4 linked regions of the Homo sapiens genome follow. The protein of the gene in region 1 purifies or fractionates together with the protein of each later gene. This does not show direct contact. Each region holds a gene or a part of one and is shown in the gene's direction. Other genes may lie near its edges.

Region 1 (8,015 bases):
CCAAAACTGACACTGCAAAATGCTGAGGAAGATGTGCAGCAGCAGGAATTATCACTCATTGCTGGTGGGAATGCAAGACGGTACAGCCACTTTAGAAGACAGTTTGGTGATTTCTTGCAAAACTAAAAATACTCATGCTATATTTATGATCCAGCAATTGTGTTCCTTGGTATTTACCCAAATGAGTTGAAGACTTATGTCCACCTGAATGCACATGAATGTTTATAGCAGACCTTATTCATCATTCCCAAACCTGGAAGCAACCAAGATGTCATTCAATTGATGAATGGATAAATTAGCTAGTACATCCAAACAATGGAATATTGTTTAGTGCTAAAAAGAAATGGGCTATGAAAAGATATGGAGGAAACTTAAATCCATATTGCTAAGAGAAAGAAGCCAATCTGAAAAGGCTACATACTGTACGATTTCAACTATATGACGTTCTACAACAGGTAAAACTATGGAAACAGTAAAAAGATCAGTGGTTGCCAGGAGTCTGGGGGGAAGGAGGGATGAATAGGCACAGCACGGAGAATTTTTAGGGCAATGAAACTATTCTCTATAACACTGTATGATGGATAAATGTCATTAAACATTTGTCAAAACCCATAGAATGTACAACACCAAGAGTGAACCCTAATGTAAACTGTGGACTTCAGTTCATAATAAAGTATCAATAGTGGCTCATCACTTGTTTAAAAAAATATCCAAATGAGCAGTATTTTGGTTACACTTTTATCAATATTATTCATATTAAACAACCATCTCAAATATCTGTGGGTAGTGCACATGCAAGGGTAATTTGATTTTCCATTTGAGACCATAATTTGCTCTTTGTGAATCTTCTTAACGCTGCTCAGTCTTCTAGTTTCCCCTTCCTTCCTTCCTTCCCTCCCTTTCCTTCCTTTCTTCCTTCTTTCCCTTCTTCCCCCTCCTCTCTCTCTTTCTTTGTCTCTTCCTTCCTTCTTTCTTCTTTCTTTCTTTGCCTTTCTTTCTTTCTCTCCTTCCTTCCTTCTTTCTTTTTTTTTCTCTCTCTCTCCCTTTTCTTTCTCTCCTTCCTTCCTCTCTCTCTCTCTCTTTCTCTTTTTCTCTCTTTCTTTCCAGAATCTCAACCCTGTTGCCCAGGCTGGAGTAAAGTGGTGCAATCACAGCTCACTGCAGCCTCGACTTCCCAAATTCAGGTGATTCTCCCACCTCAGCTTCTCGAGTAGCTGAGACTATAGGCACATGCCACCATGCCCAGCTAATATTTTGTATTTTTAGTAGAGACAGGGTTTCGCCATGTTGCCTAGGTTGGTATTGCACTCCTGGGCTCAAGCGATCCGCCCACCTTGGCCTCCCCAAGTGCTGGAATTTCAGGTGTGAGCCATGGTGCCCAGCCCTTCTAGTTTCTTGTCTAAATTAAACCGACTTGTTTTAACAGCATTTAGCCAGCATTCCCATCATGTATCCAAGAGCAGTTGTAAGGTCAGTTGTGATACAGTTTTTTCCAAGATATTTCATCTTTGGGCACATCCAGAATATTGCATATAATCTTTTTATTTTTCCAAAAATGCCATTATTATCAGCACAATTAGGCTGTGTCTTCTAATAACAAGTTCAACTATGTGCCATACAGGGGACATGTCACCAAAAAAATGCTTCTAGATTTTTGGCCAAAATCCTGGCTTGTTCATCTTTATTATCTTTACTAACCATGTCATTACTGTTATCATCGACTTGCCCTTGACAGTCTTTTAAATCAAAGACTAAAATTGCAAGTAGGTTTTTTCCTTAGTGCAAAACTAGGGAAAACTAGTTTTTCCTTAAGTCAAAACTAGAATATAGCTAGTTAAATACACATGCGTGTTTTCTCTATATTTACATATATGCAAATTTAAAGATAAATAGGAATTAATATTGAAAAATGTTCCTCAGCCACATTGCACAAACCACGTTAATTTCTTTTCTTCTTTCTTTCCTTTTCTTTTCTTCTTTTTCTTTCTTTCTTTTTTTTTTGTAAGATGTGTAGGACAGAGTCAGCACGGTGGCTCACGCCTGTAATCCCAACACTTTGGGAGGCCGAGGCAGGCAGATCACTTGAGGCCAGGAGTTCAAGACCAGCCTGGCCAACATGGTGAAACCCCGTCTCTACTAAAAATACAAAAGTTAGCTGGGTGTGGTGGTGCACGCCTGTAGTCCCAGCTACTGGGGGAGACTGAGGCACAAGAAGCACTTGAGCCTGGGAGGTGGAGGTTGCAGTAAGCTGAGCTCGTGCCACTGCACTCCCGCCTGGGTGACAGAGCGAGACTGTCTCAAACAAGTGCAGAAGAGCTGAAGAGCTTCTTCGGGCCTGAACCGTGTTGTTTGCAGAGCTGACGTTTGGGGCTATAGGCTTTTCCGTACCAGTAACGAGCACTGGATCCTGACTGATAGAGGACCCAGGTGCTCCTTTATGGAGACATTTGTTGTCTATGTTTGTAATACTTGGGGTCCTCTCAAGCTTGGGTGGCACTGGGAGGGAACAGGGTGGAGGGTACAAGGATGAAAGCAAACCTTCTGTGACTGTATCTTTTTATAAAGTTTTGACTTTGGGACCCTGTAAATGATTTGCATAATTAAAAAACAAAATAAAAAAAACCAACCTAAAACATGGCAATAATATAGATTTTACTGAATGCTTGATGAGGAGACGATGGGGAGGGCCGTAATATACACAATAGCACAAAACAAAACCCCTGAATTAGACATTCTTTTCTGGTTTTTCCAATCTCTTAATCCTCAGTCCTTCATAGTCTCTAAAAATCCCTTCTATTGTCCCAGCTAGAATCTTACGCTGAGCAAAACAAAACTAAACAAAAAAACCCCTGAAGTTAGCACAACAGCAGAAACCAGCTGCCACCAGAGCAGGCCTCCAGAGGGCTTTACACTACATCTTCCATTAGAAAATACTGCAAGGATAGGGCTTCTAGGTGTTCAGCTTTCTCAATATCTGGCTTATTTTCTTCTCAATCCCTGGGACTAACATTGTCAAACAATTTGAACTGCCTCCCCAAAGCCAGTTGGAGTCTTTGTCCCTGCCCAAAGCAGGATTACCTGCTAGGTTTCCTGGGAGTCAAGGGTTGTGGCTCATTAAAGAGGGCTTTGGATTAGTGAGTCTCAAATCACTCAAAGGGGAGGTCTTGGTCCTAAACGAATGGAAATTCTCTCTTAGAGGATCCTGCCAACTCTGAGAAGGACTTTACATGCTTCTTGGTGTGGAAAACTGGCCAGTTAATTGCACGCAGTGCAGGCACAGCACGTTTGCCAAGTTTGACTTTGGACATATTGTGTAGGAAGCACCAGTGGGATACCCATGAACCGTTCATGTCCAGGAAGCAGCTGGAGCCTGAAGTTTGCAGGACAGGTTCAGGCTGAAGACACAAATTCAGAAATCATCGTGTATACAGGAGAGGAGGCTATGATGGAAACAGAAAGAATATAGGAAAGGGTAATGATTCTGAGGCCAAGGGTGGAGGAAGTGGTGTCAAGTGCTGGAGGAAGATTGATTAATAACAACATAGTGTTCACTGGACAAATAAGATCCCTTAAGAGGAGATGGTACGGGCGATGGGATCAACTGTCTTGAAAGGGAGGTGGGCACATTCTCCAAGATTTGACACTGGCGGGAGGATGCGAGTAGGAAAATAAAAACATCAGCAACACATCACAACACAACAAACCATAACCTGGCCAGGGCCTGAGAGCAGGGAGAGAGAAAGGGTAGGAAGAAGCCAGAGGAGTTTCAGCGACTGCAGTCCTTCCTCTGCACTATAGCGTACCCCTACCACGATCCCAAGGCCTCAGTAAAGGTTTGCTGCACACCTCAGCTTCTTATCAGTGATGCTTTGGAGAATGAAGGACTCTGAGGCAGTGTTCAGGGCAGACTGAAGGAGGACGGACACTTTCAGGAGCCCAGGAGTGGAGATGGAGAATTCAACTCAAGTAGGAAATTCAGCAAAGGTGACCAGGGGAAAGATAAGTCCACTAGGAGTCTGCTAAGCATCCTTGGAGTTAGTAGAAAACGCCAGGATTCCCAATATATTTGGGATGGGGTTTCAAATATATTTTGACTATTGTTTGAGTATTAAAGAAAAGGGCAGGGCCGGGCTTGGTGGCTCACGCCTGTAATCTCAGCACTTTGGGAGGCCGAGGCGGGTGGATCACGAGGTTCAGGAGTTCGAGGCCAGCCTGGCCAACATGGTGAAACCTCGTCTCTACTAAAAATACAAAAATTAGCCGGGTGAGGTGGTGGGCACCTGTACTACCCGGGAGGCTGAGGCAGGAGAATCGCTTGAACCCGGGAGGCAGAGGTTGCAGTGAGCCGAGATCGCGCCACTGCACTCTAGGGTAGGAAGGCCCAGGGTAGGAAGCTGAGCGGTTTCTAAATCTGTAGCCCCTTTTTCTCAATGACAATGAAGTAATCTTCCGAGATGTTGAAAAACCTGGTGAGGAAAGTTTGGAATAGCAGTTTGGGAATCCCCTGTAATAATCTGCTTTCCCTTGTGAACAGCAGGCACTGTCTTAAAATTTTTTTGTATCCTCAATGCACTGTAGGAGTTCAATAAATGATAGAATAGATGAATAAATAGAAGAGAATGAGGAGACGGATCTGGGCAGGCTGCGAAGGCGGTGCTATTCCAAAGCCCAGCCCAGAGGCAGTGACCTCCGACCCAAGCCAAAAAAAAAACCTCGCGTTCAGAGGCCGGGAGAAAGAACAGCTCCCAAATTGAGGGGAGTCCAAGACCCTGCTCTTTTAGAGGGTGGGGCTAGGAGAGCGTATTTCGACGCTGCCCGCCAACGAACCAATCCCCGCCTAAAGGGGGAGGGGATTTAATCTGTCGCCTCTCCTTCCCTTTGGAAAGTAAATACGTTCGGGCGCCATTCAAACGGACCAATGAGTGATCGACGTTTTTGTGGTTGGCCTTCACCGATTGGCTGGAGTTTGTCGTCCCTCCCTCCTCGTCACGCCTCTGGCTCCACCCCTTTGCACACAAGATGGCGGCGCCCAGCGGAGTAGGGGCTGCGCTTGGGGTTTGCTGAAGCTGGCTGCCTCTCCCACTCCCCTTTTGGGTGCAAAGCGCCGCTAGCGGGAAGACGGGGGCCGGGCGGGGACAGGGGCACCTGCGTAGCTGGACTGAGAGCCTGCGCCCAGCTTACATCGACCCCACCCGGCCCCGGCCCGACCCGACGCGACCCGATCCGATCCGATCCCATTCCATCCGTTCCTCGTCTCCTCCCGGTCTGACCCGTTGCCCGGCCGTGGTTCGCCACACCAGGCATCCAAAGCTGAGGTCGCTCCTACGGCCTGGGCTCGCCTTCGCTTTAGAGATGTTTGGCCTCTTCCCTCCCAAACAGCCCATCTTCAAAACCTGGACTCTTGGACTGGCACCTGGCCACCTTTCCCTCTACCAAGACTCCACTTCCGTCTTACCCACTTCTTCCTCAGATTCTTGGTACCCCCTGGGTTGGAGACTGCTCATTTTCCTTCCAAATTAATCCCAGACCCCCTAAAATATTGACAACCTTGACAACCCCCCAACCGAGGAGCCAGACTTTGTTTTGGACTAACTTCCATAGCCCTATCATGGAGGCAGTGTACCTGGTAGTGAATGGGTTGGGCCTGGTGCTGGACGTGCTGACCTTGGTGTTGGACCTCAACTTCCTGCTGGTGTCCTCCCTCCTGGCTTCCCTGGCCTGGCTCCTGGCCTTCGTCTACAACCTGCCGCACACGGTACTGACTAGTCTTCTGCACTTGGGCCGCGGAGTCTTGCTTTCATTGCTGGCCTTGATCGAAGCCGTGGTCCGGTTCACATGTGGGGGCTTGCAGGCCTTGTGTACTCTGCTGTATAGCTGCTGCTCTGGCCTAGAGAGCCTAAAGCTCCTGGGGCACCTGGCCTCTCATGGGGCACTGCGGAGCAGGGAGATACTGCACCGGGGCGTCCTCAATGTGGTCTCCAGTGGCCATGCTTTGCTGCGCCAGGCCTGTGACATCTGTGCCATTGCCATGAGCCTGGTGGCTTATGTGATCAACAGCCTGGTCAACATCTGCCTCATCGGCACTCAGAACCTCTTTTCCCTGGTGCTGGCCCTGTGGGATGCAGTGACCGGGCCTCTGTGGAGGATGACGGACGTAGTGGCTGCCTTCCTAGCCCACATTTCCAGCAGTGCTGTGGCCATGGCCATCCTCCTTTGGACACCCTGCCAACTAGCCCTGGAGCTGCTGGCCTCAGCTGCCCGCCTCCTGGCCAGCTTTGTGCTTGTCAATCTCACTGGCTTGGTGTTGCTAGCTTGTGTGCTGGCAGTGACGGTGACTGTGTTGCATCCGGACTTCACCCTGAGGCTGGCTACCCAGGCACTCAGCCAGCTCCATGCCCGGCCATCCTACCACCGTCTTCGAGAGGATGTCATGCGGCTCTCTCGCCTAGCACTGGGCTCAGAGGCCTGGCGCCGAGTCTGGAGCCGCAGTCTGCAGCTGGCGAGTTGGCCAAACCGGGGAGGGGCACCTGGAGCTCCCCAGGGTGACCCTATGAGGGTATTCTCAGTTAGGACCCGGAGACAGGACACTCTTCCTGAAGCGGGGCGCAGATCAGAGGCAGAAGAGGAGGAGGCCAGGACCATCAGAGTGACACCTGTCAGGGGCCGAGAGAGGCTCAATGAGGAGGAGCCTCCAGGTGGGCAAGACCCTTGGAAATTGCTGAAGGAGCAAGAGGAGCGGAAGAAGTGTGTCATCTGCCAGGACCAGAGCAAGACAGTGTTGCTCCTGCCCTGCCGGCATCTGTGCCTGTGCCAGGCCTGCACTGAAATCCTGATGCGCCACCCCGTCTACCACCGCAATTGCCCGCTCTGCCGCCGGGGCATCCTGCAGACCCTCAATGTCTACCTCTGAAGCCTCCTTCCCTGCCTGCCCACCCCTCCATGCTCCACGCAGGCACTCACGCTAGGACAGCATTAACACCTCATCTCCGGGTCCTGGTCTGAATCCCCTCCTACCCCTGTGGCCATCCTGCCATACATCCAGGACATTGAGTTGGAAGACTATGATCTGGGTGGGGGCAGGATAACATGGCTTCTCTTTACCCAGTGGGTCCCTTCGATGCTGAGGGTGGTGAGTATGTCACTATGCAAGGGCCCTGAGACTATTTGCTGTGGGCTCTCCTCCAGCCTGCCCAGGGCCCACCCAGATGCCTCTGGGGTTACCCCTGTCTGCTTCTGGTTTTTCTGTTGGAGATCTATAGGTCCTTTTCCTGCCTCCTTCACATTTCCTCCCCAGCTTTTGCGGCCACAACACATCAGTGTCATTTGGGTGTTTTGGCAACTCAGGGGCCTTCGGATGATCTTAAACCTTTGTGTTCAGCCAGAGCCCCTGTGCCCTGGTAGGCGTTGGGGTTAGTATCTCTCGGGTGCCCTCAGAGCCACCTCTGCCTGTGATCGTCTGATGAGGCTCCCTCCCAACCTGATCCAAAAGCCAGTCTCAGGAGTTTACCCCTGGGATGGGGGATGCATCTGCACCTGACTTTGGGGCCACGTGCCCTGTGGCACCCCAGCTCACTGGGAGTCTCAGGAGGGATAACCGGATTTCTGCTCTTTCCCCTGTCACTCCCACATCACACAGAAAAATGGCATTCCTCTCTGTCTCTCCCTGGCATGGAGAGGGCAGACTGTGCACATTTCACTAGGGTCCAAATACAGAAGGGCCCAGGGCCCAGGGGCTTGCAGCTTCGTGAGGGGTCTCTGGCCCAGTTTCCAATGAATAAAGTTCTCTTGACAGCTCTGACAGTCTCTGTGTGCATCCCTGCAAGGGAGCAGTTGGTCAAGGCAACAGACCTTGCATCAGGGTCCTTCAGCCCCGCCAGAGTCAGAAGTGTGGGCTGTGGGGGTACCTGGGCTTTAGAGGGGGGACAGGGAAGGAGCTAAGATAGGCTGGGAAGACTATGTCATGGGGAGAGTGCATGCCAGGCATGGCTCTGTGAGCTCTCATCCCTTCTGATTTG
Region 2 (5,470 bases), on another chromosome or scaffold:
ATATCTACCACTTGTCCTTGATGATGAAGTGCTTCTGCGCATAGCAGTTTCCTGGCTAGGCAGATTAACAGATTAACATAGCACCCAGTTCAGAAGGGATAGTTCAGTTTGCAGGATCACAGTATCCCATGGCCAGGAATTCAGTCTGTAGTAGGGCCCAGTAGCAAACCAAAAGTTATTTTTCAAAAGGACAATGGTTACTTGACAAAAGTGGATGCATAGATTATAAGTGTAGGAGACTTCACTGAGTTTTCTGTTGGAGCTTGTCATATTGGATCCACTGAGTTATAAGGATGAGTGTCGAAGCTGCTTGTCCTGGGGCAGCTGGTGAGCCTTCTTATGCTCTAAGCCCCATTCTAAGCTGACAGCTTCTTGGGTCATCTCGTTTGGGTCAAATGGTTTGAAGCAACACACTTAAATAAGGTACATGTGGCCTCCAAGATCCTAATTTGCACAGAAAAAGAATGTTGTGTGTTCTCCAACCTTACTCCAAGAGGTTGTATTTTGGTATAGATTTTTTATTTTTTTCTCCTCTCATTTATTGATCAAGATGGATCTACTTTTCCCCCTGACCTTTCTAACTATCTGGTACAGCTCCAGTGGGCCTAGAGAGGATTCAAGGGAAGCCTGTTTCTTTGGAGCCTCCGCTTCAAAGTCAGGTGGGAGGCGTTGTATCTGATTACAGTGTTATAAAACAAGGCCAGAATCCATTCTAGCCCTTCACCCTTTTACAGAGAGAAAATATCCCATTGCTATTGACCACTTCAAACCCTCAATGATAGGAGCCTCAACTTAAGCTTGCCCTTATAGAAAATGATACAGTTTATACATTTGGGAACATTTTATTTTACTTTTGAAATAAAAGTGAAACTAAAAACTACTGGCGGGGCAGTATGGTTCATGCCTGTAATCCCAGCACTTTGGGAGGCCCAGGTGGGTGGATCATCTGAGGTCAGGAGATTGAGACCATCCTGGCTAACACAGTGAAACCCCGTCTCTTCTAAAAATACAAAAAATTAGCCGGGCATGGTGGGGGGCGCCTGTAGTCCCAGCTACTCGGGAGGCTGAGGCAGGGGAATGGCGTGAACATGGGAGGCGGAGCTTGCAGTGAGCCGAGATCGTGCCACTGAGCTCCACCCTGGGCGACAGAGTGAGATCTGTCTCAAAAAAAGCTACTTAAATAATTTGTTCTGTGATCACACTAATACCTTTCTTAAAATCACACTATGAATTTTTTTTTTTTTTTTTTTTTTTTTTTTGAGATGGAGTCTCACTCTGTTGCCCAGGCTGGAGTGCAGTGGCGCCATTTCAGCTCACTGCAAGCTCCGCCTCCCGGGTTCACGCCATTCTCCTGCCTCAGCCTCCCGAGTAGCTGGGACTACAGGCATCCGCCACCACGTCCGGCTAATTTTTTCTGCATTTTTAGTAGAGACGGGGTTTCACCATGTTAGCCAGGATGGTCTCAATCTCCTGACCTCGTGATCCACCCGCCTTGGCCTCCCAAAGTGCTGGGATTACAGGCGTGAGCCACCGCGCCCGGCCACACTGTGATTTCTTATACTTTATGGATGCTACTGATCCCATAGTGAAATCAGCTTGGTAATAACTTAGAAATTTCATGTCCTTCTTTCTAGATGAATTCTTTCCTGTGTTTTTTTTTATTTGCTGTATTAATTGGTCGAAAGGAGCTTTTTGCTGCATTTGGTTTTTATGATAGCCAACCCACTCTTATTGGACTATTGATCATCTTCCAGTTTATTTTTTCACCTTACAATGAGGTAATGTATGATCTTTAAAATTATCACACATATGCTCTTGCCTGCTTCAAATCTAGAGCTTTCAGGATAGTGAAAAAGGAAATAGAACAGTACAGTTTTAACAAATAGATGAAACAAAGTCTTTTAGTCCCCTGATTCACTGGTCAGTATGACAAAGTAGCAGAAAAATTCAAGCCCAAATAAATAAACGTTTGCATACTCTTAGGAAAGTATAAGTAGAAAACTAGACTTCAGTGGTGAACACCTAAAAGGACTCGGTAGATGGAGATTAACTATTGGAATGTTGTGTCCTAGGCCACATATTCACCAGTGCTTGGGTAAAAATCTTATGTGTATGAGGGGACAAAGCAAACACTAATTGGTACAGCTCAGTAAGGGAGGCTTAGTGACTGTTCCTCTGCTCCATGACCACCTGCCTCCATATAGCCTGAGGGATCCACCCAAACCCACAAAATCAAAATCGGGTATTTTGTGGTAAATGAAACTTAAGAACATTGCTCTGTGTTAGCTCATTAGGGGTATTCCGTGTGAGTGATAATACATAGGTTAATGTGAGACTATATAACAAACCTGACAATGGCATCATTTCATGATGTTTGGTAAGGCTTCCAAATTAAGCTAAGAAATAATATTGAAGATCTTGAGGTATCTCCATTCAGAAGAATTCTTTCTTGGGATAGATTGTAGAGTTAAGATGAGCTAAATGAATTATATTTTTCTATTATGTATGGTGGGGACACCAGGAAAGAAAAATGGAGGGGCATAGATCATATTCATATAGCATTGTCCACATAAACAAAAATAAATTTGGCAGAGAACTGAGATGTATTATCTTAAAACTCTTTTTTTTTTTTTTTTTTTAAGATGGAGTCTCGCTCTGTCTCCCAGGCTGGAGTGCAGGGGTGTCATCTTGGCTCACTGCAACCTCCGCCTCCCGGGTTCAAGCAATTCTCCTGCCTCAGCCTCCTGAATAGCTGGGACTACAGGCACCCATCACCACGCCCAGCTAATTTTTGTATTTTTACTAGAGACAGGGTTTCACCATGTTGGCCAGGTTGGTCTCGAACTCCTGACCTCAGGTGATCCACCTGCCTCAGCTTCCCAAAAGTGCTGGGATTACAGGTGTGAGGCACCACACCCGGCCTGAGCATGACTTTTGAGTCTCATGTCAGCACTCAAAAGTTTCAGATTTTGGAACATTTCAGATTTCAAGTTTTTGGTTAGGGATGTTTAACTTTTATATGTGTTTCTGGCCTGTTTGCTTGGGGGAGAATAAGGCTCAATTTATAATTTCCTCACCCTAGGTCCCCTAAATATTAGTGATCTTTCTTTTGTCCTGCCATTCCTCTTATCCCAAGCCAAACTTCTCTACAGTCTCAGCTCATGGAACCTTTAGTAACAACAAAGAGGTGGGCAGTGGCTAAAACCCTTTCATTTTCTTTTTCAGGTTCTTTCTTTTTGCCTAACAGTCCTAAGCCGCAGATTTGAGTTTCAAGCTGATGCATTTGCCAAGAAACTTGGGAAGGCTAAAGACTTATATTCTGCTTTAATCAAACTTAACAAAGATAACTTGGGATTCCCTGTTTCTGACTGGTTGTTCTCAATGTGGCATTATTCTCATCCTCCACTGCTAGAGAGACTTCAAGCTTTGAAAACTATGAAGCAACACTGAGATGTCCAGGATCTGTGACTGAAGACATTTCTGATTATTTCTGTCCTGGCAGCATGTTCCAGCTCTTGATGTTTTTAAACTTTTTTTTAGAAGAAAAATTAAGTACAGAAAAGCCCAGATTTAAATACATTTAATATGTCATTTTAAAAATGATTTTAATAATTCATTTCTTAAAACACTGAATGAATTTTGAAGCTTAATGTTTTTAAAGGCATAGTTTTATCTTTGACATCTAATTTACCATCAAGTTGTAAAATTATTTGGAAAAATACAGAACTCGTTTTATTTGTATACTTATATGGAATCTGCATGTGAGGTGTTTGAGGGCATATGTTTGAAAGAGGGAGCATCACCACAGGAATCCTTTCTGTGAGGTGGAAACAGTGGTCCTGAATCATTGTGCTCACACCTAACTTGAAATCTGGTCTTACTTTCATGCTGTTATGATTTCACCTGGTGAATCAGTGTTTTAAATAAGAAAGGTAATAGTTGGTAAGGCCAATGTTATTTAAATGAAAGTAGTTAGAAAAATGCTCTCCTATTCTACCAAATTTTTAATTTCTTTCTTCCCTTTCTTGCTACACAGTGATCAAGAGTTTCTCATAGTGCTTTGAAGTTAGAAATTATGTATAGGATATTTTAAATCATTGAGTTTTGTGGGGTTTTTTTGTTTGTTTGTTTCTTTTGTTTTTTGGAAAATCCGTGTCTTTATCTTTTTTTCCCACGTGGTAGATATGATCCCATTGGAGGTAAATTGTAGCTTCTTCTCATTCATGCAGTAAATAATACATCCTTTCACTCAGCAGAGATGGCCATATTAAACACGTTTTGCTATGTTAAAAGTGGCAGAACAGGAAAGACGAATTAAAAATAACATTTTTTAAGCGACATAAGGATGAAATACTGATGAATCTCTGTGACATTACAGGGAAAAAAATATAGTTTTCTATCTCTTTCAAGGGCAGAAGAGTTTTCATTTTTATTTTTGTAATTTTATCTGTAAGTCATAAATATTACTTAATCAGGCCTGATTCTACTTTTGAAAATTACAGTTCTTGAAATGCAGATAATGTTTACTTTGAAAACAAATGTCATGAATGATTTCCAGTTTTTAAAGCTATATGTTTCACTGCTTCATATCTCTGTCCACTTTCTGAATGAGAACTTATTTTGTGCCTAGAGCTCTCACTCACTGATAATGCTTATTACCTTCTGGGCATTTATTCCAAAGTGGGATCAACTGTACGCCTTTGGTATCTGACCATAAAGTCTTTTGCTCCGCTGACATTTGGGTGATGTCTTCACATGGAAATATAATAAAAATAAAAATCTAGTTTAATACTGCATTATTTATTTTCCTAAGGCTAAAGAGGAGCAGTCCTATGCTTTTATTCAGCATCCTTTATCTGTGACTTCATGCTCTGATAACTGCCTTTCCTTCCTTCTGTGCCTTTGAATACAAATTTCAGTTCTGCAAAAGTGAAACATTAAACATTGCCAACGCAAATGTATGTACTTTGTCTTTAGTTTGATATTTGTGTATCATTTTTTTAATTTGTGTATCATTTGTTACCTGAACATATGTTTATTACCTGAGAGGAACTGGGTGCTAGCAATGAAGAGTGGAATGAAGAAATAGCCCTAATGATGAGTGGTGTCAGTGCCACCACTGTGCTTTACACAGAGTCTCTTCAGTGTCTTGCTCCTGCTTTGCTCCAGAGTATCACCAGTTCTTGCAGATATTTCCTTGGAAGCTTCATTTGGAATCATTCCTTCTCTATTTTTATAACCTCAAATTGTTGGGCCTGCCTGGTCTGCTCCAGCTGCCTCTTTGGTTTTCCTTACATATGGTGGCAGTAATTAGCTTTTAAATATGTGACTGACTTAGTCACCCACACTTTATGGATGGCAGAGGCATAGGGATGGCCAAAAGGATACTGGTAGGTTCCTAAGAAATTGACCAATCAAGGGAAGAGTAGATAGGCCCACCAACGAAGGAATAGATGGCACTCTGCACCCT
Region 3 (7,424 bases), about 110 Mb from region 1:
ACTTTTTTTTTTAATTTTTAGTAAAGACGGGGTTTCACCGCGTTAGCCAGGATGGTCTGGATCTCTTGACCTCGTGATCCGCCCGCCTCTGCCTCCCAAAGTGCTGGGATTACAGGCGTGGGCCACGGCGCCCGGCATGAAACTTTTTTTTTTTTTTTGAGACAGAGTCTCGCTCTTGCGCCCAACCTGGAGTGAAGTGGCACGATTTTGGCTCATGGCAACCTCCGCCCCGCAGGATCAAGCTATTATCCTGACTCAGCCTCCCGAGCAGTTGGGATTACAGGCACCCACCACTATGGCCGGCTAATTTTTGTTTTTTGCTTTTTTGAGATGGAGGCTCGCTCTGTCACCCAGGCGGGAGTGCAGTGGTGCGATCTCGGCTCACTGCAACCTCTGCCTTCCAGGTTCAAGGGATTCTCCTGCCTCAGCCTCCTGAGTAGCTGGGACTGTAGGCGCATGCCACCACGCCCAGATAATTTTTTGTATTTTTATTATTTATTTATCTTTTTGTTTGCTTTTTTGGGACAAAGTCTTGCTCTGTTGCCCAGGCTGGAGTGCAACGGCACGATCTCGGCTCACTGCAACCTCCGCCTCCCGGGTTCAAGCGATTCTCCTGCCTCAGCTTCCCAAGTAGCTGGGATTACAGGCACCTGCCACCATGCCCGGCTAATTTTTGCATTTTTAGTAGAGACGGCGTTTCACCATGCTGGCTAGGCTGGTCTCAAACTCCCGACCTCAGGCGATCTGCCCACTTCCGCCTCCCAAAGTGCTGGGATTACAGGCGTGAGCCACTGTGCCCGGCCAATTTTTTGTATTTTTAGTAGAGACGGGTTTTCACCGTGTTAGCCAGGATAGTCTTGATCTCCTGACCTTGTGATCCGCCCGCCTCGTCCTCCCAAAGTGGTGGGATTACAAGTGTGAGCCACCGTGCCCAGCCTAATTTTTGTACTTTTAGTAGAGATGCGATTTCGCCATGTTGGCCTGGTTGGTCTCGAACTCCTGACTTCAGGTGGTCCACCCTCCTCGGCCTCCCAAAGTGCTGGGATTACAGGTGTGAACCACCGCACCCGGCCTTTTTTTTTTTTTAGATGGATTCTCACTCTGTCACCCAGGCTGGAGTGGAGTGGTGTGACCCTGGCTCACTGCAACCTCCGCCTCCGGGGTTCAAGCCATTCTCCTGCCTCAGCCTGCTGAGTAGCTGGGATTACAGGCGCCCACCACCACGCCGGGCTAATTTTTGTATTTTTAGTAGAGACGGGGTTTCACCATGGCTCGAACTCCTGACCTCGTGATCCGCCTGCCTCGGCTTCCCAAAGTGCTAGGATTGCAGGTGTGAGCCACCGCGCCCGGCCTGAAATAATTGCTTTTAAGCTTAACTCATCGTTTATCTTTTTTCTATATATATCATATATAATTTCTATATATATAGTATACATATATATCATATATAATTTCTATATATATATAGTATACATATATACTACTTTAATGCTTATAGCATGGTATAAATATGCCAAAACCAACCAATTCTCCAGTAAGTTTTAAGTTACTGAAAGAAGTGTTTTAGAAAATATTATCTTAACAGTTTTTGAAGGGGGCTACAAATAAGTTACCTCTTGTTTAGGAAGTTGGGGAAATTATTTAATTTCTGCATTTAAGAGCCTGGACTAGTACTGATTGACAGGGAAACATTTTCAAGCCATTAATTTGACCGGATATAACACGATATAAGGGAAGGGAGATGAATGGGATAACATTTTAAGCTTATGAATGGCTCTGAATATATGTACATTTGAACTCTGTTCTATAGTCACTGGTAAATACTGTTAACACAACGTTCCATTACCTGTGACAAATCAGAATTAGGTTTCTCTCTGAATCCAGTTACAATTATAGCATCCTATCCACCGCCACCATCATCGCCATTCAATTTTTAGAACAACTCAGTAGCTTCTGGGGATACAAAGATGTCCTGTAATTGTTATCTACAATAAGAGGGCGATTTAAAAATTCTTGAGATTCTGTATTATAGTGTTTTAATGAGTAGCCTACAGGCATGGGACTTAGTGGAACTGCATAAAAATATTCTGATGGGTTAAAAAACACCTCCAATTACAAAACACAGATACATGTGGAGGGAACAGAAATTATAAATTAAAACCATTTGTTTTTCAGCTGGGCTACTTCTTTGTAACAGAGAATGTATCCATTGGGTAGGAGACTGATTTTAACTGAGCAAAATCCTCCAGTTAAAAGTAACCTAATCCTTTTTTTTTTTTTTTTTTTTTTTTTTTTGAGACGGAATCTTGCTCTGTTGCCCAGCCTGGAGTGCAGTGGCGCAATCTCAGCTCACTGCAAGCTCCGCCTCCCGGGTTCACGCCATTTTCCTGCCTCATTCTCCCGAGTAGCTGGGACTACAGGCGCCCGCCACCACGCCTGCTAAATTTTTTGTATTTTTAGTAGAGACGGGGTTTCACCGCGTTAGCCAGGATGGTCTCGATCTCCTGACCTCATGATCTGCCCGCCTTGGCCTCCCAAAGTGCTGGGATTACAGGCGTGAGCCTCCGCGCCCGGCCACCTAATCCATTTTTTATATGTGACACTTTTATTTTAAGGGCTTAAAAAGTAATCCGGGCCGGGCGCGGTGGCTCACGCCTGTAATCCCAGTACTTTGGTAGGCTGAGGTGGGCGGATTACGCGGTCAGGAGTTTCAGACCAGCCTGGCCAACATGGTGAAACCCCGTCTCTACTAAAAACAGAAAAATTAGCCGGGCGTGATGGTGGGCGCCTGTAGTCCCAGCTACTCAGGAGGTTGAGGCAGGAGAAATCGCTTGAACCTGGGAGGCGGAGGTTGCAGTGAGCTGAGATCGTGCCACTGCATTGCAGTCTGGGCTACAGGGCGAGACTCCGTCTCAAAAAACAAACAAACAAACAAAAAACAGTAATCCGAACTGATTTAAACTTCTTTATTAACAGAATATATGTTCAAACAAAGCTTAAAGTCCCATTTTCTTTCCATTGGCGTCTAGGCCCCTATTACTCAACTATCCGTTGGTTAGGGCCTGCACCTCAAGGTAGGCTTAATTGTAAATCAAAATATTTACTATCCACACTTAGAGGGCTATCTGTAACATCGTTTTTATTTATCCCCGTCCATTCGATAATCGTCTGAAATGCAAGACATTAAGTTGAACATCATCCAGCTTTCTCCCTGTTTTTCTAAGCGCGATCCAAATCTGTTACAACAGGGTAGTCTCTCATTCTCTTGGTAGCTCAATTCTACCCCCTGGCCGACTTAAGAAATTTTGAGTCTAATACACCCACCTCATCTTTAGTCGGCCTGGTGCGCCAACGCAAATTTGTACTGAGTACCTTCGGAACTGACTAGTAAGTATATCCAAAGGTTTAGAAAGGGCTGGGTTAAGAGCTACAAGAAGCATTAACCGCAACGGCCACAACTAATTTGTATCCATTCTTAGTAACTTTAGGGAACCAGACTGAATGCTTCTCCCACCCTTTTGACTTTCCTTTATTAGTTCGCAACACAAGAACATACAAAAGACCGTAGCGACAACCATTTCTGACGCCTTCAACTTTTAAATCCAAATTACGTGAAACCACAAAGCATCAGTGGTGTCTCCCCGAGGAATCCAAGACCCCCCGGCCGGTTGCCAAGCCGCCGGAATTTCAGCAGGAGAGGAAGGCTCACCCTCCCACCGCATGGCGATGCCCGGGAGACTGGAGAAGCTCAGGCAGGCTTGGAAGCCAATCCCCGGCATACAGCAGCTCTCGGGAATGCAGAGCCCTAGAGCAAGACCAAGGGCCTCGGCCGACACTGAGAGCCTCCAGGGAGAGGTCAGGTCTCTCTTTCTGTCCTATTTCTCCCTTCGACTTCCCTCCCAGCAGGCTGCTATTGAGCATTCAGCAATCGCCAGACAAAGCCCTTCTGGTCTGCAGAACGCACTCCGGCAAGCCCACCGGGAGAACCAAAGCCGCCTCCTCGCCCCTGTGGGGAAAATGGCGCTCGTCACCCCGGCTCCCTCCCGGGTAATCACAAGGACCAGCCTCCCTCCCTCGCTACAAAATGGCGCCTCCCGCTGGGGCCCCAGAATCGGTATGACTCGCTAGTCAGTGAGGCGGGGTCCGTCTGGGATAAGCGGTTATGTCAACCAGTCAGACACAGGAGCTTTGATTCTGCACTTTGCGCGAGCCACTCAGGGGCGGGCTGTAAAGTCAGGCTTGGCTGACGTCAGTTGAGTGGGCGCGGCTAGGGCGGTTTTCTTTCGCGTCGACCAAACGTGGGCCAATGGAAAACCGGAAGCGTCCTGTGAGTGATGTAATGACAGCCCAATGGAAGCTGGGGGCGGGCCTCAGACACACTATGCGGGTTGCGGGGCCTGGGGGCCGGACGGCTGTTTCCTGTCCTGGTGCATGGTGGTCGGACGAAGGAATTGTTGGAAAATTTTCTCGGAGGTTCGTATATAAATGTGTTTTTACCCAGTGTGCATTATTCTCCGCCTGGCCGCCGCCCTCAGCGCGGCGGCGCGGGCCCGCTTGGGCCCGGGCTCCGGCTCCCGCTGCTCAGCCTCCGCCGCAGGCCTTGCCGATTTTATGGGCCGGCCGCGGTAGCGGCGTCTGGGCAGAAGCGGAGTTTATTAATAACCCGCGGCCGCCACTCTAGGCGGCGGAGCTTTTTTCGTTGAGGACTCAACTCCCCCCAGCTTGTCTCTGAGCGATGCGCCCCGCCTGTTTCCCTCAGGGGACCGCCAAGGGGAGGGAGTGAAAGAGGGGAGGGTGGAGCCCTCGGGAGCCTTGGCCGCGTTTCTCGGCCTGACCTCCGCGCAGAGCGAGTCCCCAGGCGCCGCCGAGGCAGAGTTCCGCCGCCTGGGACGCCGGGCCCACGGGCCACACCAGGCCGCAGCGGGGGCGCCGGGGACAGGGCTGGCCCAGGCCCTCCCAGGACCTGCCGGTCTCACCTAGCGCTTGCTTCCCATGCGTATCGTGGGCAGATTGTTTCCCCCTCACCCTTTCTTCTATTAAAAAAAAAAAAAGGTTACTGAGGTCTAACATCGGATATTAGAAATTTACAATTTTATCCTCCCTTTTCTCCAGTTTTGGCCAAAAGAGTGAACAAATTCTTATAAGTCTCTTTGAAACGTATTATTGTGGAACGCGAACTAGTTTTTATTCCTTCCCCTTTTGCTTTGGACATTTGTTTTTTCCACATAATAACGAAGTTAAAAAGAGGAAAGAAGAATACCATTGCCAGCCCATTATTTGTTTAAAATCAGCGTCAGCCTTTGCTTTGGAAGTGTCTAAATCAGCTGATATAATCAAGTGAGAATGTGGGGAGAAATTGTAGGTTCGAGATTGTGGTCGGCTTTGTCCTGAATCTTACCAGAAGATACTTGTGTTTTCCTGTAGTTGACAAAAAACGGTGCAGTATTTAATGTTTTTTCTTGCTGAGTATGTAGATCAAGTTTACGTTTAGTAAGAAAATAACGTGATAAGGAGATCACTCAAAAACACCCATAAGATGCATAGCTAATTTTGTCCTGGCGTATTTTGACTGTTTGGAAATTTTTTTTTTTTAATTGTCAGTGTCCACTATTTGGAAATTCTATGAGCAGTCAGCTGTCTACAGATACTTGAGTGCCTTTTTTTTTTTTGCTTTACAGATGCCCGCCTTTATTTTTTAAAATAGCTTTAGTGATGTAATTCACATACCTTACAGTTCACCCATTTAAAATGTGTAATTAGGCCTGGGCAGCATAGGGAGACGGCCCTCCCATGTTTCTACAAAAAAAATTTTTTTTAAGTGAAATCAGCGTGTGCCTGTAGTCCCAGGTACTTGGAGGCAGAGGTGAGAGGATCACTTGAGCCCAGGAGTTCCAGGCTGCAGTGAGCCGTGATTGTGCCACTGTACTCCCGTCTGGGTGACAGAGACCGGTCTCGAAAAAAAAAAAAGTGATAATTAGTTGAATTTTAGCCTGGGTGTGGTGGCTCACACCTGTAATCTCAGCACTTTGGGAGGCCGAGGCCAGCGGATCACCTGAGGTCAGGAGTTCGAGACCAGTCTGGTCAACGTGGTGAAACCCCCGTCTCTGCGAAAAATACAAAAATTAGCCGGGTGTGGTGGCAGGCGCCTGTAATCCCAGTTACTCTGGAAGCTGAGGCAGGAGAATCGCTTGAACCCAGGAGGCGGAGGTTGCAGTGAGCCGAGATTGCACCATTGCACTCCAGTCTGGGCAACAAGAGCGAAACTCCGTCTCAAAAAAAAAGTTGAATTTTAATATATTCAGAGTTGCGCAGCCATCACTACAATCAATTTAGCAACATATCACCCCCAAAAGAAACTATACCCGTTAGCAATTACTCCCCATTTCCTCTCAGTTGTCCCCTCCACCCCACTACTAGTTTGCATGTTTGCTATTCTAGATATTTCACATAAATGGAATCACAAAGTATGTAGCCTTGTCCAGGGTCATTTATGTTATAACATGTGTCAATACTTTATTTTTATTGCCAAATGATATTTCATTGTATGAACATAGTACATTTTACTTATCCATTCATCTGTTGATGGACATTTGGGTTGTTTCCACCCTTTGGCTATTACACATAATGCTATGAACATTTGTACGAAAGTTTTTGTGTGGACATAGGTTTTCATTTCTCTTGGGAGTAGAATACCTAGGAATAGAATTGCTGAGTCATATAGTAACTATGTTCAACCTTTTGAGGTACTCTAAAACTTTTTCAGTGTGGCTGCACCACGTTTACATTCCTACCAGCAATGTGTAAAGGTTCCAGTTTCTCCATATCCTTACCAACACTTGTTATCATCAGTCTTTTTGATTATAGTTTTTCTAGTGTGGATGAAATGGTGTCTCTTGTAGGTTTGGTTTGCCTGTCTCTGATGGTTAATAATGTTGAGCATTTTTTCTGTGCCTAACGATCATTTATAATCATTGGAGAAATGTCTGTTTGAATTCTTTACCCATTTTAAAGTTGGATTATTCGTCTTATTATGATTTGGTTGTGAGAGTACTTTATATGTTCTAGATAGAAGTCCCTTATCAGATACATGGTTTGCAAAATGTCCATAGTCCTTTGCTGTGTGTTGGAATGTTGCTGTGAAGTAAGGACTGGTTGTGTTCTTCACAGAAACGTGGCATGGCTGCATTGAACTGTGCCTCTACTACATGGTTTTATTTTTAAAATAAAAAACCACTCCACCCTCATAGCATAGTTCCATTTCTGGAAGGTAAGCACTGAATTTTTAAATGTTCATACAAGCATATACAGATAACTATATACATTTTTAAATAAATGAATGCAATCATATGGTATCTACTTTTCTGCAACTTGCTTTTTCCCACTTACCATATATCTTGGACATGTTTCTCACTGTTTCAGATAGA
Region 4 (7,216 bases), on another chromosome or scaffold:
CCGTACTATAGAAGACTTTCTGGCAGGGTAAAGAGATTTGGGAGAGCCCCTGACGTCTTTGAGCATAAGAGTAGCCCGAGTCAAAGTTATTTAAAGGTTTGGCCAGTGGGCAAGATGTGGGCCTGCAGAAGCACCTGGCTGGGAAGTTGGGAGCCCAAACCATCAGCTGCCCCACGGCCTTGGCATTGATGTTGTAGCACTGCCGGGCACCAGAACTGAGTCCACAGGGCATTGCTAGAGCTCACAGCCTATGGAATTCAGTTCTCAGTGCCAGGTGGCCAAAGTTCTTTCAGCCTGGACGCTGCTCTTGCATGCTTTCTTCTGTGAATCGTCTCCCGTTCCCAGGATGAGTAAGTTGAGGCCCAGGATGGGTCACATAAGGAACTTGTGATACCAAGAGAACTCCTATTCCAGGGAGGGTCTGAGCTTGGAGCTGAAAATGGGGGCCCACAGCTAAGGAAATGGACAGGAGTTCCATAAATTCCAACAGGAATTGGAGTAGGTTAAGAGGGGAGGGGGCTCAGGGCCATGGCAGGGATCCATCTGTCGCTTCCTGCCCAGATGTGTTCCTGGTGGGGCCTGATGTGGGGCTGGAGGGGTGAGGGGCTGGGGAAAGAGCCAGAACACGCACACTGAGAAGGGCATCTCTATGCAAACCAAGGGGCTTTCTGAGCTAAAGGGAGTCCCCAAGATATGGATCCCCAAGATAGGAGCCCAGCCCAGGAGTCCTAGCTCCCCAGAAATCTCCCCAAAACCCTGAATAAAGATTTGAAGTACCTGGGATAGTGGAGTGGAGGAGAAAGAGTTCCCTGAAGCACACTTTCATTTTCTGGAGAGTTCAGCCGAGGGCTGGGTGCTCCCCTCACTCACATGGCAAAGCTGCAGCCTATCCCAGAGAGGGAAAGCCAAGCCTGCGCCTCAGGGGCACCCCATCCCGACCCCTGCTTGAATCCAGAGAGAGGGACAGCCACTTACCCACGAAACCTCCTCTCTATGGCTCCTGGGGCTGGATCTGCAACGATGTTCTCAGCCGGTGCTCCTTAAATAAGGCCCCCACCCCCGCCCCAGCCGCCTCCCGCCCCCGCCCCATGCTGGCTCTTCTGAGAAAGGAGGAAGGTGTGGGAGGGCCAGGAACCCTGCCCAGAGAGCCCTTTCTAACCTCAAGCCAGAGCGGGACCCCGCCCCCGCCATTCTTTGAAGCCTCCCCTTCCTCACCTTGGTCTCTAACTGAGTTCTTCCCACCCCTTGAGACCAGCCCGCTGGGCTCTCTCTCTACTCTGCCTGAAAAATCTGCCCTTTATGCCAAATTCAAGTCCAGTTTCTCATTTTGAAGCAGGATGATGGGGAATGGAGGTGCTAGGGGAAGCCTCAGCGTAGGTTTCTAGCTTTTCCCACCAGCTAAGGCGATCCAGGCACCCAAACACCAGCTGCAAAATTCACTGGAAGGAATGGCGGTGAAAAGGCATCCCTCTGCCTCCTTTAGCTCTGTGCCGCTTCAAGCAGTACCAAAGGGCAGTGGGGAGTCTGTTCCCATTTTGGGGAGAGAGAGACTGAGACCTGAGGGGAAAGAAAATCAGGGGCTGAAGTTCCAGCCAGCTTCAGAATCCCTCAGGGCAGGGATCCCGGGAGCCCCTACCTTACAGTATGTGTGTGTCCTTGTGTCTGTGGGGTTCCCTCTCCTCAGCCCACCTTCTGTCCTCGACCCCCCAGAACTTGACTCCTGCTGCACAGAGCTGGGACTCCCCAGAGTTTGAGTTGGGAAAGGAGGGACTCCCCCTAAGAAGTCTTTTCCATCCTCCTCCCTTGAAAGCTCAGGAAGTTCTTTCTGATACCAAGTCACATGCAGCTGCCATCCAGCAAACAGGGGATAGGGGAGAGGGGAAGGCACACAGTCAGAAATGGCTTGCAGGGGTCTTGGGCCAGAACTCAGGGCAGCTCTACTGAGGAAACTTGAAAGTTCCGGGAATGGAGGGTGGTAGGGAGAGAAGAGTCATCAGTATTGTGCAATGGACAGGGGGAAGCAGGAAAGGGGACGGGGGAGGAAAGGGATGGCTGGTCTCTGGAGGACAGGCAAAGGCCTGGGGCTGTGGGCTGCCCATCACCCCCTTCCTAGGGGCCTGCCCGGCCAGAGTTCAAAGTCGCTGTCACCCCACCCCTCATTAACCCTAGTATCACCAGGCTGGAGTGGCAGTGTTTTTATGGGCAAAGCGACGCGAATGTGCCCCTTCCTTCCCTGCTACCTCCCCCAAGCAGCCAACATCTTGCTGTCTCTGAGGCCAGAAGAGGAAGGAGGCTGTTGTGAGGACCAGAGGTGGAAGAGAAAGCAATAAGCAGTCATCCCGTTTTCTCCATAGTTTCTTCTTCTTCCTTCTCCTTCTTTTCTTCTTCTTTTTTTTTTTTTTTTTTTTTTTTGAGACAGGGTCTTGCTTTGTCACTCAGGCTGGAGTGCAGTAGCACAATCACGGCTTACTGCAGCCTTGACCTCTGGGGCTCAAATGATCCTCCCACCTCAGTCTCTGGAGTAGCTGGGACTACTGGCGTGTGTCACCATGCCCAGATAATTTTTTATTTTTTAAATTTTTTGTAGAGACGAGGTTTTGCCATGTTGCCCAGGCTGGTCTCAAATTCCTGGGCTCAAGCGATCCTCCCACCTCAGCCTTGCAAAGTGCTAGAATTACAGGTGTGAGCCACTGCAGCATAGTATCTTGGCACTGCCTTAGTCCCTAGGAGAGAGGAAAGATGGGACTTCTCTCTTGGACTGTGAGCTCCCTGAGGGCAGGGACAGCTTCCGGGTCCCCAGCACCCCACGAAGGAACTAGCACTAAAAAGGGCTCATCCCTGCTGATGGGGGATGGGAAATTTTATCCTTGAAGGGGACTCTTCCCCTTGTGACCCATTTCAGGGTTCCCAAGAGGGGAGGGCTGTGGGGCTTCCCCACAGGGCAGCACCGGGAATCTGTGGCAGCAGGAACAAAAAGAGGAAGTTGAAGTCTTGTTGGGCCCTGGAGTTCAGCTCTCCTGTCCTAGACAAGCAGCCCTGCCAACATGGGGGATGAAGGCCCCGGGGGGTAGGCATGGTCTACAGGCTGTCCATGACAGGGCTCAGGTGGATCCTCATCCTGGCACCTGCTACCACTCCACCTCTCCCAGACCACGTCCAAAATCCCAGGCTCCACCCTCCGGAGACACAGACCTGTAGCTCACCCCAATCTAGGGGAGACATTGCTGTTAAGGGAATGCAAAAGGTACAGACAGGGTGGGGAAGTCAGTACCTAAGAGACCAGCCTGGGCCACGTGGCAAAAACCCTGTCTCTACAAAAAAAAAAAAAAAAAAAAAAATTAGCTCGGCGTGGTGGCACGCGCCTGTGGTTCCAGCTACTCCAGAGGCTGAGATGGGAGGATCACTTGAACCCAGGAGGTCGGGGCTGCAGTGAGCCATGTTCGCACTCGTGAACCTGCACTCCAGCCTGGGGCTGTAACAGCAAGAAAAGAAGAAAAAGAAAGAGAAGGAAGGAAGGGAGGGAGGGAAAGAAAGGAAAATAAAGAAAGAAGAAAAGAAAAGAGGCCAGGCGCGGTGGCTCATGCCTGTAATCCCAGCACTTTGGGAGGCCGAGGCAGGCGAATCACGAGGTCAGGAGTTTGAGACCAGCCTGGCCAACATGGTGAAACCCCGTTTCTACTAAAAATACAATAAATTATCTGGGCGTGGTGGCGCGCGCCTGTAATCCCAGCTACTCGGGAGGCTGAGGCAGGAGAATCTCTTGAACCCGGGAGGCGGAGGTTGCAGTGAGCCGAGATCGCGCCACTGCACTCCAGCCCGGGAGACAGTGCGAGGCTCCCTCCCAAAAAAAAAAAAGAAGAAGAAAAGGAAAAAAAAGTGAGAGAGAGAGAGAGAGAGAGACGAGAAAAAGAGAGAGAGAAAGAAAGAGAAAGGTTTCGGGTCTCTGACGGATGAGAAGGAACAAGACGGGGATGCAGTCCTACCCACTTCGACTCCACCCCCTCTCAAGACCTTCACGCCTAACGCCTCCCTACGCGCAACAAAACTGGCCGCCAAGGGAGCCCGTCCATAGCCCTGGGACGTTAGAGAATTAGAGCAGGAGCTCCGCCCTGTTGTGGGCAACTTGCCCTTCTCAAACATGGCCGCCACGGCGCCTCTGGAAGGGAACCGCTCTGGGCCCCGCCTTTGATCTCGTTGGTGGGGCTGGGGGATGAGAGCTGCACCGCGCGGGACAAGTCGCCGGCGGCGCCCGACGGAGCAGGTGATTTCCCCTCCTGCCCCCGGCCCAGGGCTAGGAGAGTCGCGGAGAGCGCTGACCCAGGGTACCCGTCCGATGTGTTCCCCCACGGTACCCCCCCCGGGGCCCGTCGGACCCCCATCTCTGATTCTCGCCGTGGCCTGTATCAAGGCACATCCAGTTTGCTCAGGCCTGCCTCGTCATGTGTCCTCCAAGGCCACAGCCGCATCCCTGTGCCTTCGGGCCCACTATTCTGGACGCTTACGGGTGTCCCGCTAGCGGGTTTAGGGAGCTGCTGCTTCAGGGGTCGTCCATCATCGCGGTCCCACTTCCTGTGCTCGCCCTCCCTGTTTGTGCTCCCGCCTGACTTTGGATGCAGGGATCCCTTGTTCCCCTCAATGCCCTTGGTGCCTCTAAGGTCTGACTTGGGTATCAGAGGACAATGATATCCTCTGGGGCCTGCGTTATGGGTCCAGGGCCTCAGGAACCGGGCTTCACAGGGGCTGGGAGAAGCAGTGAAGACCTTCCATGCTAGACCCCTTGCTGCCTCCCTGAGAAGTTCGCTAGGACTCCTTTCACACTAGCTCCCAGGATTCCTCCTCCCACATGGCCTGCTCTCCCTCCACTTTAAGCACCTCCCCACCCCAAGGGAGCAGCATAGTACTTCTTACCCCACTCTCACTTAAATTTGTCCACAGTGTCTCTATCTAGCATCTGGAGGGTCCAGGCCTGTGCTGCCCTTGGGAAGCTCCCAGGCTAGCTGGGAGCAGTGAAGGTGGGGCAGTTAGGGTTGGCTGCAGAAAGGGAGTCCTGCAGAATGAGATTTGGAGAGGCAGAGGGACAGATGCTCTGGGCTGGGAGAGTGGTGTGAGCAAAGATTCTGAAATAGACAATATAGCCAGCCAGGCAGGAGAGGAGATTCAGAATATAGGATGGGGCCACACAATTTGCATCGTGAGAGGTGATGTAGTGTGGTGGTTAACAGTGAGGGTTCTGGATCCAGACAGCCTGGGTGTAAATCTGCCATTAACTTGCCTTGTGACCTTGGGCAAGTTACTTAACCTCATAGTGCCTTCATTTCCTTTCAGGTAAAATGTGGATAATACGGCCGGGCGCGGTGGTTCATGCCTGTAATCCCAGCACTTTGGGAGACCGAGGCGGGTGGATTGCCTGAGGTCAGGAGTTCGAGACCAGTCTGGCCAACATGGTGAAACCCCGTCTCTACTAAAAAATACAAAATAAATTTGCCAGGCATGGTGGCATGCGACTGTAATCCCAGCTACTCAGGAGGCTGAGGCAGGGGAATTGCTTGAACCAGGGAGGTGGAGGTTGCAGTGAGCTGAGATCGCACCACTGCACTCCAGCCTGGATGGCAGAGCGAGACTCCGTCTCAAAAATACATAAATAAATAAAATAAATAAAATAAAATGGGGAGAATAACAGTATCTACATTTTAGAGTTATTGTAAGGATTAGGTAAGTTAATACATGTAAAAGTGCTTAGGACAATGCCTCGTAAGCAGAGGCAATAAATGCTAATATTACCATCATCGGAGGCATTTAGGCAGGACTCATGACAGGATGACAGTCACATTTGGTAGACACCATCAACCAATGATCTCTAATTTGCGGCCCCCAAGAAGCAATGGGGTTCTGTGGGCTACATCTGGAATTTGAAATGTCTCATGGAAATCATGTTCTTACCCTGGAGAAGGGTGGCTGCTTAGGTGCTACTTAGGAAACCAGTCTGGCAGACCAGATCTTCCCCAACTCAGGGGCTATGCGGGGAGAAGTATTAGGAGCCCCTGAGCAGGAAGGATGTACTTAGGAAGGCTACCGGGGATGGGGAAGGGTAAAAGAGCTTAGAAGCCTGGGTGAAGTTTGGGTAGACCAAAAACAGGAGGAGGGAGGGAGGATGTTCCCTTGGAATACAAACTAGAGAAAAGCTTAGGGGAGCAAGTCTTTTTATTTGGGGACAGTGAAGAGTTTCCTAAAAATTCCCTGGCCCCCAGGCCTTGGCTAAAAACCCAGAAGCATGAGACACATCCCTGAGAAGCTTCTTCCCTAGAAACTGGGCTCTCAGGCCGGGCACGGTGGCTCACGCCTATAATCCCAGCACTTTGGGAGGCCTAGGCGGGCAGATCACCTGAGGTCGGGAGTTCGAGACCAGCCTGACCAACATGGAGAAACCCTGTCTCTACTAAAAATACAAAATTAGCCGAGCATGGTGGCACATGCTTGTAATCCCAGCTACTCAGGAGGGCTGAGGCAGGAGAATCGCTTGAACCCAGGAGGTGGAGGTTGCGGTGAGCCAAGATCGCGCCATTGCACTCTAGCCTGGGCAACAAGAGTGAAACTCTGTCTCAAAAGTAAAATAAATAAATAAATAAATAAATAAATAAAATTAAAAAAAAAAAAAGAAAACCTGGGCTTTCAGCCAAGTTTCAGTCACCACCACACAGGTGGCTCATGCCTGTAATCCCAGCACTTTGGGAGGCCAAGGTGGGCAGATCACCTGAGGTCAGGAGTTCGAGACCAGCCTGGCCAACATGGTGAAACCCCGTCTCTACCAAAAATACAAAAAATTAGCTGGGCGTTGTGGCAGGCGCCTGTAATCCCAGCTACTCAGGAGGCTGAGGCAGGAGAATTGCTTGACCCTGTCAGGTTCACACCATTGCACTCCAGCCTGGGCAACAAGAGCGAAACTCCGTCTCAAAAAAAAAAAAAAAGAAAGAAACTGGGCTTTCATGCAGCAGCCATGGGCCTTTGTCCCGGCAGAGGCTACCATGCAACTGACAGCCCAGGATTCGAGGGTGATGTAACCCAGGGTCGAGGTAGGTCCCTGGAGGCGGTTCTACCCTGAGGGAGCTGCATGATGGGATCTAGTATGCCTGGGCTGAGCCATTCTGCTCTTCCTCAGGGCCCATGAGGGCTCTGGCGCAGGTGGTATGAATTCCCCTGGTAGGCTGGGGCTTCTCAG

Evidence for each region.
Region 2: the proteins of RNF26 (region 1) and ZMPSTE24 purify together in Homo sapiens (affinity purification with mass spectrometry; 3 studies listed by BioGRID and IntAct, with this or other methods). This does not show direct contact.
Region 3: the proteins of RNF26 (region 1) and ZNF143 purify together in Homo sapiens (affinity purification with mass spectrometry; 3 studies listed by BioGRID and IntAct, with this or other methods). This does not show direct contact.
Region 4: the proteins of RNF26 (region 1) and CUEDC2 purify together in Homo sapiens (affinity purification with mass spectrometry; 3 studies listed by BioGRID and IntAct, with this or other methods). This does not show direct contact.

The regions. Positions count from the first base shown.
Region 1 is NC_000011.10:119,329,515-119,337,529, forward strand, and holds RNF26 (E3 ubiquitin-protein ligase RNF26), read left to right. Parts: upstream 1-5,012; 5' UTR 5,013-5,608; coding exon 5,609-6,910; 3' UTR 6,911-7,795; downstream 7,796-8,015. UniProt on the Homo sapiens protein: E3 ubiquitin-protein ligase that plays a key role in endosome organization by retaining vesicles in the perinuclear cloud.
Region 2 is NC_000001.11:40,289,220-40,294,689, forward strand, and holds the end of ZMPSTE24 (CAAX prenyl protease 1 homolog), read left to right. Parts: intron 1-1,634; coding exon 1,635-1,778; intron 1,779-3,225; coding exon 3,226-3,450; 3' UTR 3,451-4,961; downstream 4,962-5,470. UniProt on the Homo sapiens protein: Transmembrane metalloprotease whose catalytic activity is critical for processing lamin A/LMNA on the inner nuclear membrane and clearing clogged translocons on the endoplasmic reticulum.
Region 3 is NC_000011.10:9,456,604-9,464,027, forward strand, and holds the start of ZNF143 (zinc finger protein 143), read left to right. Parts: upstream 1-4,408; 5' UTR 4,409-4,431; coding exon of another isoform or gene 4,432-4,473; exon of another isoform or gene 4,474-5,437; intron 5,438-6,675; exon of another isoform or gene 6,676-7,267; intron 7,268-7,424. UniProt on the Homo sapiens protein: Transcriptional activator. Activates the gene for selenocysteine tRNA (tRNAsec). Binds to the SPH motif of small nuclear RNA (snRNA) gene promoters. Participates in efficient U6 RNA polymerase III transcription via its interaction with CHD8.
Region 4 is NC_000010.11:102,429,571-102,436,786, reverse strand, and holds the start of CUEDC2 (CUE domain-containing protein 2), read left to right. Parts: upstream 1-4,212; 5' UTR 4,213-4,261; intron 4,262-7,216.